Regions from separate parts of the Homo sapiens genome. Here region 2 is linked to region 1. A link means that fine-mapping ties the variant in region 1 to the expression of a gene that starts in the linked region. Tissue or cell type: whole blood. Region 1 holds a variant in brackets; the other region holds the start of a gene. All regions are shown on one strand. Distances are between the middles of the regions.

Region 1 (6,739 bases):
GTGGCTCACGCCTGTAATCCCAGCACTTTGGGAGGCCGAGGCGGGTGGATCATGAGGTCAGGAGATCGAGACCATCCTGGCTAACAAGGTGAAACCCCGTCTCTACTAAAAATACAAAAAATTAGCCGGGCGCGGTGGCGGGCGCCTGTAGTCCCAGCTACTCGGGAGGCTGAGGCAGGAGAATGGCGTGAACCCGGGAAGCGGAGCTTGCAGTGAGCCGAGATTGCGCCACTGCAGTCCGCAGTCCGACCTGGGCGACAGAGCGAGACTCCGTCTCAAAAAAAAAAAAAAAAAAAAAAAAAGAAAGTGCACCATATATAGTAAGGTTTCAGCACAGGAAGCAGTGATTTTTATCTTTTGGAGTTTTACTTCTGACGTGACCCAAATGAAGAATAGTCCTGTGTCCTAGGAAACCCCAATGTTTTGTATTTGCTTCTATCATTAGAATAAAGAGATACCTGTCAATTTCTCATTTCAAATTCTAAAGCGCTGGCATTACAAATTTCAGTGAAACTATTGTGAGCCAGGCCAGAGCTGAGGGACGTGTTACAACATTGGTAATTGAACTTAACTCTGTTCCTCCTACCAACAAAACAAAAGAAACAGCTAACTCCTCTCTCTGTCTGTCTCTCTCTCTCTCTCTCTGTCTCTCTCTCCCCGCTCCCTACACCCCCCACACACAACACACACACACACAATTACATGTAATCATGTAATTTTATTCAAGATTTTCTCCTATAGAAAATTCAAAAATGCTAGATTTTAGGAGACCCATTAAGCGGCCTGAAAGGTTTTCTTAGATTCTTTTTCTGGGCAAAGACAATTTTCTTTTTCTTAGCTTCCTATAGTTTTGCAACATCTTAAACATTTTCTCCTCTGATATCTATATTCTTTGCGTGACTATATATACTTTTCATTCACATCTTAGCAATATGTGTTAGGTTTAAAATAATTAATGTTTAAATATTTCTGTTGTTTATTTAAAGTTTCCTGCAGGGTATTATTTTCCTGGTGTGGAGAATAAATTGTGGTGGAAAAAAATTTGTTGTATCTTCTACTTCCCATCAGATATTTATTATGCACTTTCTCCATTCTGAGTTCTAGGGTTGGGAATGGTCTTGACTCTGTAATGCTACTAAAATTATACTTTTGAAAGTATAAGAATAATAATCTAATAGTATGACTAAAGGATATAAAAGGCAAATTACAACAGAATAGGCATGGAGGGGAAAAAAAGAGACCTGCTCAGAGGTTAACTCTTCGAGAGAATGAAGACGGTAGTCTGGATTAAAGTCATGACAGAAGGAAAAGAGATTGACTAAATCTAAACAACATTGGAAAAAGATGACAATGGAGAGCTCTTTAAAGGATTAAAATATGAGACATACAGGAGAAAAATTAAAGATAAACCAAAAGTTTCACTGGGTATGTGGGGGTTACTCCCTGTGGGAACGATGAAGCCGTGGTAGAAAGAACTGGCTTGGGGACAAAAATAAATTCTGTTAAATAAATAAATAGAAAAGACAAATGTCCTGTAGAGAAGAATCACAAATAATTTATGTAGATACTTTCCCTGTCCAGGAGGTGGGCCTCTGCATTTCTTTCTTGATGATGGGCTGAGCTTGGTGAATTGCTTCCAAAGAGTAGCCTATGGGAAGGTGGAAAGGGAATCATTTTACAGTGGAGAAACCTTGGCCAAGTGATCAAAGTTGACGTTATGAGTGAGGTGGTGTTTGTAGCATGTATGCCTTTGATGCGATTGTTGAGAATGGCACTTTACCTATATGGTCTTTCTCCAAAAAGCCTATAACCCATGAGGAAAACGTCACACAAACCCAAATTGAGGGACGTTCTACAAAATACCTGACGAGGTTTCCTCAAAACAGTCAAGATCATCAGAACAAGGAGCCTAAGAAGGCATGGTGACTAAATCCTGGATGGGATCCTGTAACAAAGACGGAACGTTAGAAAACACTGCTTTAAGCAAAACCAAACCTAAACCAAACTTTTTAGTTTGGTTTGTATTAGGCAGTGTTCTCCAGAGACATAGAACCAATAAGGTGTGTTAAAAGAAAAACTTCAGACAAATTTAACAGAATTTAATTGTGCAAAGAATAATTTGCGAATCAGGCAGCCTCTCGAACCAGGAAAGGTTGAGAACTACTCTGGTGCTGGTGTATGGTTGGAGAGGATTTATGGACAGAAAAAGGAAAGTGACATACAGGAAAGGAAGTGAGGTACAGAAACTGCAGGATTGGTTACAGCTGGGCCTTTGGCTTATCTGAACACAGTTTAAGCAGTTGGCGGTCTATGAGTGAAGTATGGCTGCTGTGATTGGCGGAGACTGAGTTACTTGTTACAGGAGTAGGTTGCAGTTTGTTTTCTCTTCTAGTCAGGTTACAGTTCCCTATGTACTGAGAAATCTTTAGGCCCGAACTTAAAATATGTAAGAAGGCAGCTTTAGGCTAACTTTAACAATTCCCCTCTTTGGTCAACCTCTCAGTTTTGTTTTGTTATTGTTGTTGTTTTTGAGATGGAGTGGCTCTGTTGCCTAGACTGGGGTGTAGTCATAAAATCTCGGTTCACTGCAACTTCTGCCCCCTGGGTTCAAGTGATTCTCATGTCTCAGCCTCCCAAGTACCTGGGATTATAGGCGTGTGCTACTGCACCTGTCTAATTTTTATATTTTTAGTAGAGACAGATTTCACCATGTTGGTCTTGAACTCCTGACATCCAGTGATTTGCTCATCTCAGCCTCCCAAAGTGTTGGGATTACAGGCATGAGCCACCCCATCTGGCCTCAATTTTGTATTGTTTGTCAATTTTGAGAGGTTGACAAAACTTTAGGCATCCATAAATGTACTTATTTGATCTCAAATCCAACTGGGAGGTAACAAAACTGGCTTTTGCAAGGTGGGGAACAAGGACTTCAGGTTAGTTTTCTGTAGGGATTAGAGCAGGGGCAACCTCCTTATGCTGGGATCTCTTGTTTTTAGGAAAGGAATAAAAAACCTGGGCTGTTTGGGATCTTTCTGCTTCCTTAAAGTTTCAATTTGATGATGTTGCATTTAGCATGAGTGACTTCATTTAGGTTTGATCTGGTCTAGCCTATTGATGCCTAGTGAATAAGCTTAATCCAAAACAGTGGGCTCTCACAATTTTGTTTAACAGCTTCGCCTTTTTGGTCAGGTTCTCACTTGGGTGTGAGTGTTACTGAAACTTAGGGCTTTAGTGCTACTCAGTTACCATCCTTTTGGGTTTCCAGTCCTAGCACTTTATTCATAGGTTTTGGTGTCCTCATGATCATGCATGTCTTTGAGTGTTTATCATTCCTGCTGAAGAGAGACCATTTGAACTTACATAGATGGCTGCATGCAAACATTTATAACTTTTGAGAGAATATAATGCAGCAGGGAGACTGCTATTATGACTGTTAGGAGGATAATACTAAGAGTTTGGAGTATGCTCCTTAGCCAGAGTTCGCATGAACCAAACCAACTAAAATCAAATAGATCAAAGAATGAGCAAGATAAACAATCTACTCATTTCAACCAAGCAGCCAGTTCATTAATCCCCTACAACTGAATCTCTGTAATATCCAGTATATTCATCCACGTGCAACAAGAGGT[G/A]TCAGCAAGGCCTGGTATGATGGCTCACACCTGTTAATCCCAGCATTTTGGAAGGCCGAAGCGGGAGGATCCCTGAGGCCAGGAGTTCAAGACAGCGTAGGCAACATAGCAAGACCCTGTCTCTACAGAAAATACAAAAATTAGCCGGGCCTCGTGGCACATGCTGGTAGTTCCACTACTCAGGAGGCTGGGTGGGAGGATCACTTGAGCCCAGAAGGTTGAGGCTAAATGAGTCATGATTGAGCCACTGCAGTCCGGCCTGGGTGACAGAGCAAAAACCTGTCTCAAAGAATAAAAATAAAAGTGTCAGCAACTTCACAGATACTTCCCTGATTAGCCAGTAGGCAACCTTGAGCAATTCTGTTATCCAGTAGACCTTTAGCAAGATAATTTAAAGAAGTCTGTTTTGTAACCATAGCCTTTGCAGTAGAATCTGCTATGGAGCATATCATGAGGAACAAATTTCTTTTTTTTTTCTTTTTCTTTCTTTTTTTTTTTTTTGAGACAGGGTCTCACTCTGTTGCGCAGGCTGGAGAATAGTGGCGTGATCTCGGCTCCCTGCAACCTCTGCCTCCTGGGTTCAAGCAGTTCTCCCACCTCAGCCTCGCAAATAGCTGGGACTACAGGCACACGCCACCACGCCCCGCTAATTTTTGTGTTTCTGCTAGAGACAGAGTTCCCATTTTGACCAGGCTGGTCTTGAACTCCTGACCTCAAGTGATCTGCCCACCTCAGCCTCCCAAAGTGCTTGGATTACAGGCATGAGCCACTGCGTCCAGCCCATGAGGGACAAATTTCTAGACACTGTATCGTTTACTCCAAACTCTGGAAAAAGTGACCTAACAATGAAGGCCATTCAGAATGATGAAGGCTTCCAAGCACTAGTGTTCTTTTTCACCTCTGATGTAGGTTAAAAGGAGTGGACCAGTGTTCTCTTTCTGACAGAACCATTAAAATTCCTAACCCACATTGGACTGTCATCTTTCATCCATTAAGACATAATGCTGCCTATGGATAAGGTTGGCTGTAAAAGTTTTCACAAATAAAAGTGTGCCCCATTGGTGCACCATAAGACCCCTTTTCTGTTGTTCATAGAGGCATAAACAAGGAAAACATTGAGAGGTAAGAGTCTCATGATGACAGAGAAGTTTTGATCCATGCTTTTGGGAAAGCTGTCCATGTCTAGGGTGCCATCTGCTTCTGGGGGAAAACCTTTTCTAACTGGTTAGCTTTACGTTAAGATTTCCAATGGGTGTACAATTCCAAGTCTGGAGGGGCCCTCCTGCATTGTGATATCAATTGACCCAGTGTTTGAGGCCCCAGAGTTTTGCTTCATTGTGGGTAACAAGGGCAGTGTTTTCCTGACGTCATTTCCAGAAGAACCAACCTCCAGGTTCTAGATTGTGAAGGATTTGAATGTCCTCAGTGGGTGGGTCATGAAAAGCTTCCTTTACTGCCAGCACGGTAGCTCATGCCTGTAATCTCTACACTTTGGGAGGCCGAGGTGGGCGAATCACTGGAGGTCAGGTCTCTGGAACCCAGGAGTTCAAGACCAGCCTGACCAACATGGTGAAACCCCATCTCTACTAAAAATACAAAAATTAGCTGGGTGTGGTGGCGCATGCCTGTAATCCCAGCTGCTTGGGAGGCTGAGGCACAAGAATTGCTTGAACCCGGGAGGTGGAGGTTGCAGAGAGCTGAGATCACACCACTGCTCTCCAGCCTGGGCAACAGAGTGAGACCATCTACAGAAAATAAAAAAAAGAAAAGCTTCCTTTAGCTGGTGAAAATACACTTTGGTATAATGCATTAAAGGCTTGCAGCATTTATTCATATCAGAGTTTGGGAGAGGAAGATACATGAGGTTCTATTATTAGTGGCATAGGCCTTCCAGTGACTATTTCATAATGAGTCAACTTATATTTTCTACTGGAAGCAGATGAGGTTGTCATCAATCTGCAATACCTTTGACCAAGGCAACCAGTCAATTCAGTTAGCTTCACCTAAAGCTGTTGTGTCTGTAATACCTTACTTAACTGTTTACAACTTGTCCAGTGAAACAAGTACCACTATCACTGGAGATTTCTCCAGGAATGCCCCGTGAGGGAAACACATTTTCTGACAACCTTTTAGCTACTGTTATAGCATCAGCCTTCTTGCATGAGAAAGCTTTTACCAGAAAACGTGTTGAAAATGACAGTTGAATGAAATTCCTCTATAAGTGTTCCAATGACCCATCAGGTAGCTGAAGTTTTAATTATCTTCCCAGGTTGTAGGTTTGATAAGCCAAACCTTGGTCATAAACCATTTTTAGCGATTTAGAGCAGTCACCACACCAATGTATATGTTTTCTATTTGGATCATTTTCTGTCTTCCATGATGAGTCATGGAGTGCAGAGCTTTTAATAATGGAAGATTTACGGATTCAGGAAGGACCAGGTGGCTGTGCAGGATCTCTGTGATTCCATGCTTAACATTGCATTTATAGCCTGTTAAATACCAATTTTGTATCTCCAATTCAGGTGCATAGCACTGTTCATTAAATGGGTTATCATAGGTAATTTGACTTGGAACATAGAGTTCATTCAAGTTGCATATCTTAACAGTTTTAGTACTGGCTGATTTAGCATGAAAATCTGGCAGAGTATTTTTCTTAGTATTCAGTTAATTTTTGTCCTGCTTGGGTTAGCAGTTTTATAAACCAGTCTCTTTATTAAAGTTCTGGGAATTCTTACCCAGTCCAAATTAGATGAGCCTAAAGTTATCAGAAACTTGTATTCAGTAGTGCTTATTAGGGTCCTTTCCATTACTTTCCATGAACGTTCTTGAAGACATAATGCTCTAGGATTTTACTTGGTTGTAAAGAGCTTAAAGAAAATGCATCCGTATAAAGCAATTAACTGTGGAAACAAAATGATCATGGTTAAAGACATAATTGACAAGAAAATTTGGTTGTGGTCATGAAGGGTGTGAGGGTGCAGGCCTAGGTGCCAATATTGGGGGCAGGGACCTCAGCCTTCTGAGGCTACTCACAGGCATGCTGCCCCCCATGCCCAGCTCTGACACCAGCAGGAGGAAGGTGCTGGCTGCTGCAGGATCCTGGCTTGCTG
Region 2 (5,586 bases), 42 kb before region 1:
GATAAGTAACTGATGGCTTATCTAGGATTGTCAATTTCTAGTTAAACTGGCTTAAAATAATCTCCCACTTGTCTGAACACATGCAGACTCAGCATTGAAAATTAATGGAGGCCAGGCGCAGTACCTCACGCCTGTAATCCTAGCACTTTGGGAGGCTGAGGTGGGCAGATCGCCTGAGGTTTGGGGTTCGAGACCAGCCTGGCCAACATGGCAAAACCCCGTCGCTACTAAAAATACAAAAATTAGCTGGGTGTGGTGGCACATGCCTGTAATCCCAGCCACTCGGAGGCTGAGGCAGGAGAACTGCTTGAACCCAGGAGGTGGAGGTGGCAGCTCCGAGCAGAGATCACGCCACTGCACTCCAGCCTGGGCAACAGAGTGAGATTCCGTCTCAAAAAAAAAAAAAAAAAATTAACATACGCTAGTGACATCTCAAGGACTTCTGGTGATGTGTCCAGCCTGCCTGACTGAAACTTACCTATGCCATGTGTTTGCTAATAAACATGGGGCTGCCTTAGTCAGTGCTCAAGGTTAGCAGCAGCCTCATGATCATTTTATGACAGTAGCAAAGGTGACCGTTGGTGGAGATGCCAACAAGCTCTCATTCCCCATGATAGAGGCCTGGGGTCAGCCACAGTGGGTAATTTGTACTCACAGAATATCTTCAGTCTCAGGAGCTCCTTTTGGGTTCCCTGAGCTCCTGACTTTTCAGGTTCTAGTTATGTCTAACTTGGTCTTGACTGCTCATTTGCGGGTCAGGACAGCAGAAGCTGTCTGTTTACTACAGTAGATGTAATTCGCATTTTTGGACACAATGACCAGTGGAGATTACACAACCCAAACTGCCCTCATTCCCCAACATGTGCATGGACAGAGTGGGATGAAAGTGCGCCAGGGTGGTGGGAAGCCCCAGGGATTCTGGTGGCTAGCCTAGCTGTCTACAGGATGGCAGAGTTCCTCTTGGGCAGCTCATTTAATCCCTCCACGCAGAACTGTTAACATCTCTGTGCCATTCTTCAGTTAAATGAGAACCTAACGCAGGCCTGATGCATGGCTCAGATTACACAGCGGATGTGAAGAGGCTTTGGGAACATATCCTCTCTCCTAAGGACAGGGAGGGGATGCTAGTGTGGGGTGCCTGCGGTGTTGCATGCAGGTCAATGAGAACAGTTACCGACACACAGACTTAACCCGAGTCCTCAAAGATGTGTTTTATTATTATTTTTTCATCCTTTAAACATGAATCTAAATGCTGGCTTAAAATCAGGATTCATGCATAAACGGCTTCCCAGTTTATTAACAATACTGGCTGTGACTTTTTGAGTTCAGTGTTGTGGGCCAGGCACTTAAATTATTATTTCGAATCTTGCCAATGGTACTTTACATTTGAGCTCTTGCGTACCCTGCCAGAGCAAGGATTATAACCTTAATTTTTTTTCTTACCCCAGAACTTATGCTCTTAACCCTATTCAATGCTGTCTCTCTCTTTGGCTAAGAAAGACTTCTGAGGCAGATGGAAGGAAGGAAGGAAGGAGGGAGCGATACAAGGAGAGGCTTTCCGATTCCGTAATACACCTGGTTGTGCAAAGTTCACCTCTACATATAAAGTTTTTGTTTTCCAAGTCATTGAACCGGCGACATATTCTACCGGCCATTTTGGTTGTGGCAACCCCAATTCCCTTGATTTTTTTTTTTGTGACAGCAAATGGAATTAGAGTAGGCCGCCCTGCCCGGGCTTTTTAAGAAACCCCAGCAACCCCCCCGGGTAAGGAGCGCCGCTCTCCCGCCCGCCGGTCCAGGGTGTGTGCGGTTTCCAGCACGGCCTCCTCCTTCGCCCCACTCTGGGTTCGCGGGTCGGCGCCGGCGGGGCGGGGCTCGGCAGGGCCACGCTGCCACGCCCAGCGTCTCCACCCCCTCATTTAAATACGCGGCGCCGGCGAGTGCGTCGAGCTCGCCGCGGACTCAAGATGGCGGCGTGTGGACGTGTACGGAGGATGTTCCGCTTGTCGGCGGCGCTGCATCTGCTGCTGCTATTCGCGGCCGGGGCCGAGAAACTCCCCGGCCAGGGCGTCCACAGCCAGGGCCAGGGTCCCGGGGCCAACTTTGTGTCCTTCGTAGGGCAGGCCGGAGGCGGCGGCCCGGCGGGTCAGCAGCTGCCCCAGCTGCCTCAGTCATCGCAGCTTCAGCAGCAACAGCAGCAGCAGCAACAGCAACAGCAGCCTCAGCCGCCGCAGCCGCCTTTCCCGGCGGGTGGGCCTCCGGCCCGGCGGGGAGGAGCGGGGGCTGGTGGGGGCTGGAAGCTGGCGGAGGAAGAGTCCTGCAGGGAGGACGTGACCCGCGTGTGCCCTAAGCACACCTGGAGCAACAACCTGGCGGTGCTCGAGTGCCTGCAGGATGTGAGGGAGGTGAGGAGGTGGGACGAAGCCGGGAGGGCCAGGCCTGGTGCGGGCCCGAGGGTGTTGCCGGCCTTGGAAGCCGCTGACGCCGGTCGGCTGCTTTCCTTGCTTCCTCTGTGCTGCACTCGCTCCTTCCCTCTTTGCTCCTCACTCCCAGGCGCTTTCAGGGAAAAGGATACCACTCCCACTCCTTCTTTCCCCCGCCCTTATTTCCCTCCCTGTTGCCGGGGTCTGGGACGAAAACCTGGGCTCCTGGCCGCAATCCGCCGAGGCCCAGAGCGTGTCTGTTCGCTCCTGTCTTTTGTGTGATGCTCTATGCAGAGTGTCTCCTCGCCGAAGATCAGTTTAGGATTTTGCCATCAGTTTCGACTAGGACAATTTGTGGCAAGCCATTTAAACATAAAAAAATGCCTGGCGTACTTAGGCTGTAAAGAATGATCTGTTTATTAGCAGTAGATGTAATTCGCAAATCCATATTTTTGGTGCTGAAATTAATGTATGCTTTGTTTTCTTCACTTCCTTTGGTCAGTTGTATTGAACCCCATGTTTAAGCTGTTAACTCCCAGTGACTTGGCGCCCCAAAGCTTGAAAAGTTGGGGAAGCGTTTGAAGCTGTGTTTGTGACTGGGTTATGGGATCTTGCCTTTCTGAGGTCTGAATGTGATTTTAACAGTATCTCTTAATGAAATCTACATTTGTCGTTGCTTGGTGTGATTCAGTTGAGTGACATTGATAATTTATAATCAAGTGACATTGATAATTTATAATCTAGGTTTAATGCTGCAGACCATAATGACAATTCTCAAAGTTTGGGAGCAAATCTGACAGTAGTAACTTTTTCCAGAGGTGTAGGTATATAAAATTAGCCCTAAAGGTGGACAAATAGAATGAAGCTACCACTTGATACTGTTTTTGGTTTTTTTTTTAAATATCAGATTTGTTTAAGGCGTTCAAGCTATAGCAAGACCACTTGCTTGTAGAAATTTGCTTCTCTTGGCATTTCCCCCCTTCATCTCGTGTTCTAGTATTCTATACAAAAGCAATTCAGATAGAGGAAAAGACATACATAAGCAGGAGACAGAAAGAAAGGAAGTTTCCAGAGCCCCTAGAAATGTGAGGCCTTACCTGACTTCTCATCTTCAGCTTAACGACTAGAGGGATAGTCCTCTGGTAGATACAGCTAATATTCCTAACTCTGTCGAACTTTTTGGAATTTTCTTTTCGCTCTTTGAGGACACATAATAGATGTCGTTTCATCAAACTAGGATCCTAATACTGGTGACCAAACAATTAGTAGTAGTTTGTGGTAGAAACAGCACATTATTAGGGAAAGTGGCAAAAAGTGGCCTATTCAAGGAGTGTATATATCCTTCATGTGTATTCCGGACATTTGGAAACCTCCACTTAAAGGAGGCAGTTTTATGCTCCAGAGGAGGAAAGGCGTCATATAAATTGGAAATGGGGGTTTTGGGGGGTTGGGGGGAGGTGGAGGGACCAAATTTCCAATTTAATGTTTTTTCCTCCAGTTTTTACATACAGAAATAATGAAGGAAGAGTACTGTGAACACCTATGTGTATTCTTCAGGAGGTGGAGTTATTTTTAAACTTCTTTTCTTTTTTTTGAGATGGAGTCTCACTCTGTCGCCAGGCTGGAGTGCAGTGGCTTGAACTTGGCTCACTGCAACCTCCACCTCCCGGCTTTAAGCAATTCTGCCTCAGCCACCTGAGTACCTGGGACTACAGGCGAGCGCCACCACGCCCAGCTAATTTTTGTATTTTTAGTAGAGACAGGGTTTCACCATGTTGGCCAGGATGGTCTCGATCTCCTGACCTTGTGATCTGCCAGCCTCGGGCTCCCAAAGTGCTGAGATTAGTGGTGTGAGCCACCACCCCCACCCTATTTTCTTTTTCTTTAAAGACAGCGAAAGGAAATTTCATTCTGCTTAGTCTGGGAGTTAATTAAATCTGATCTATGTGTTTGAAAGAGCATAACTTAAAGAAGTAAACTAGTTAGGCACATTTGAAGAAACATGTATAGAATATGTTTTGTATTTGCTGTTCAGTAAGTAGAACTATTTGATAGTGAAATAGATATATGTACTTTTCTGTCCCTTTGCATGCAAATGCAGGGAACATTTTCCTATCCGTACCCATTATTGGAATTATGAAAAGGCAGAGCATATGAGTACAGTTGTTCCTTGGTATCACTGGAGGATGGTTCCAGGCCTCCTGCAGATATTGAAATCCAAGGACGCTCAAGTACCTTATACCGTATAAAATGGTGTCGTATTTCCATATCATCTGTGCACACCCTTCCGAATTCTTGTCTTCTCTAAAATACTTGTGATACCTAGTACAGTGCCTACATATCAGTTCATTCATGTGGATTCACTGTAGTACTTGGCATATGTCAAACTTAACTTTTGCTTTTTGGAACCTTATGGAACTTTTCTTTCTGAAAAAAAATTTTTTATTATGGAGACAGGGTCTCGCTCTGTCATCCAGGCTGGAGTGCAGTGGTGCAGTCATAGCTCACTGCAGCCTCAGTCTTCTGGGTTTGAGAGTTCACTGAAGCCTCCACATTCCGGGTTCAAGTGATCTTCCCAGCTGGGCTTTCCAAAGTGCTGGGATTAGAGTTGTGAGCCACTGTGCCTGGCCTTGGGATTCTTTTTTTTTTTTTTTAACGCTCTCGGATGAGTCATGCTTTTAAAAAGGCCAAGTATATCATGGGTCCACTATGAAATAATAGATGTAATAGCCAGTAATGGTGTGTTAGTAGTCCTAGTTGTGTGTGTATAATTATTAGTAGTTCAAGTTATTTAAATAAAAACAAAAAATTAGAAAGTGTAAGGCAGAAAAGAAAAAATATTCCCTGGGCTGTTCTAGTAGGTGGAGTAATAATACCAAAGAAAGAGAAGATACTGTTGCTTAGTATGTGATAAGGAAGGCATGCTTGATGTTGTCAGTCATTTTAAAATACTTTACTTATTCTTGGTTGAAATGGCCAGTAGCACTTTTTTTTTTTCCACTAGTGTCTTGTATTTCGAAGTTTCAGATGGAGACCTTGGTTCCTTAGAAGTTTGTGGTGTTCAGCCGGGCGCAGTGGCTCACACTTGAAATCCTAGCCCTTTGGGAGGCTGAGGCAGGAGGATTGCTTGAGCTAGGAGTTCAGTACCAGCCTGGCAACATAG

The links. PIP is the estimated chance that this variant, and not a neighbour inherited with it, causes the effect.
Region 2: GLG1 starts here. The variant in region 1 is fine-mapped to the expression of GLG1 in whole blood (INTERVAL, PIP 0.93).

Annotation. Positions count from the first base shown.
Region 1 is chr16:74,561,118-74,567,856 of GRCh38, reverse strand. All of the region lies in intron 1 of GLG1 (golgi glycoprotein 1), which reads left to right. Among named protein-coding and RNA genes, the nearest start is that of GLG1, 43 kb to the left of the region's middle. RefSeq lists enhancers at 1-116, 1,759-2,260. The variant G/A (reference allele first, on the strand shown) is at 3,630.
Region 2 is chr16:74,603,476-74,609,061 of GRCh38, reverse strand. GLG1 (golgi glycoprotein 1) reads left to right here and starts at 1,948. Exons shown (of 26, transcript NM_001145667.2): 1 at 1,948-2,405. The coding sequence starts at 1,968. RefSeq lists silencers at 1,778-1,967, 2,198-2,377.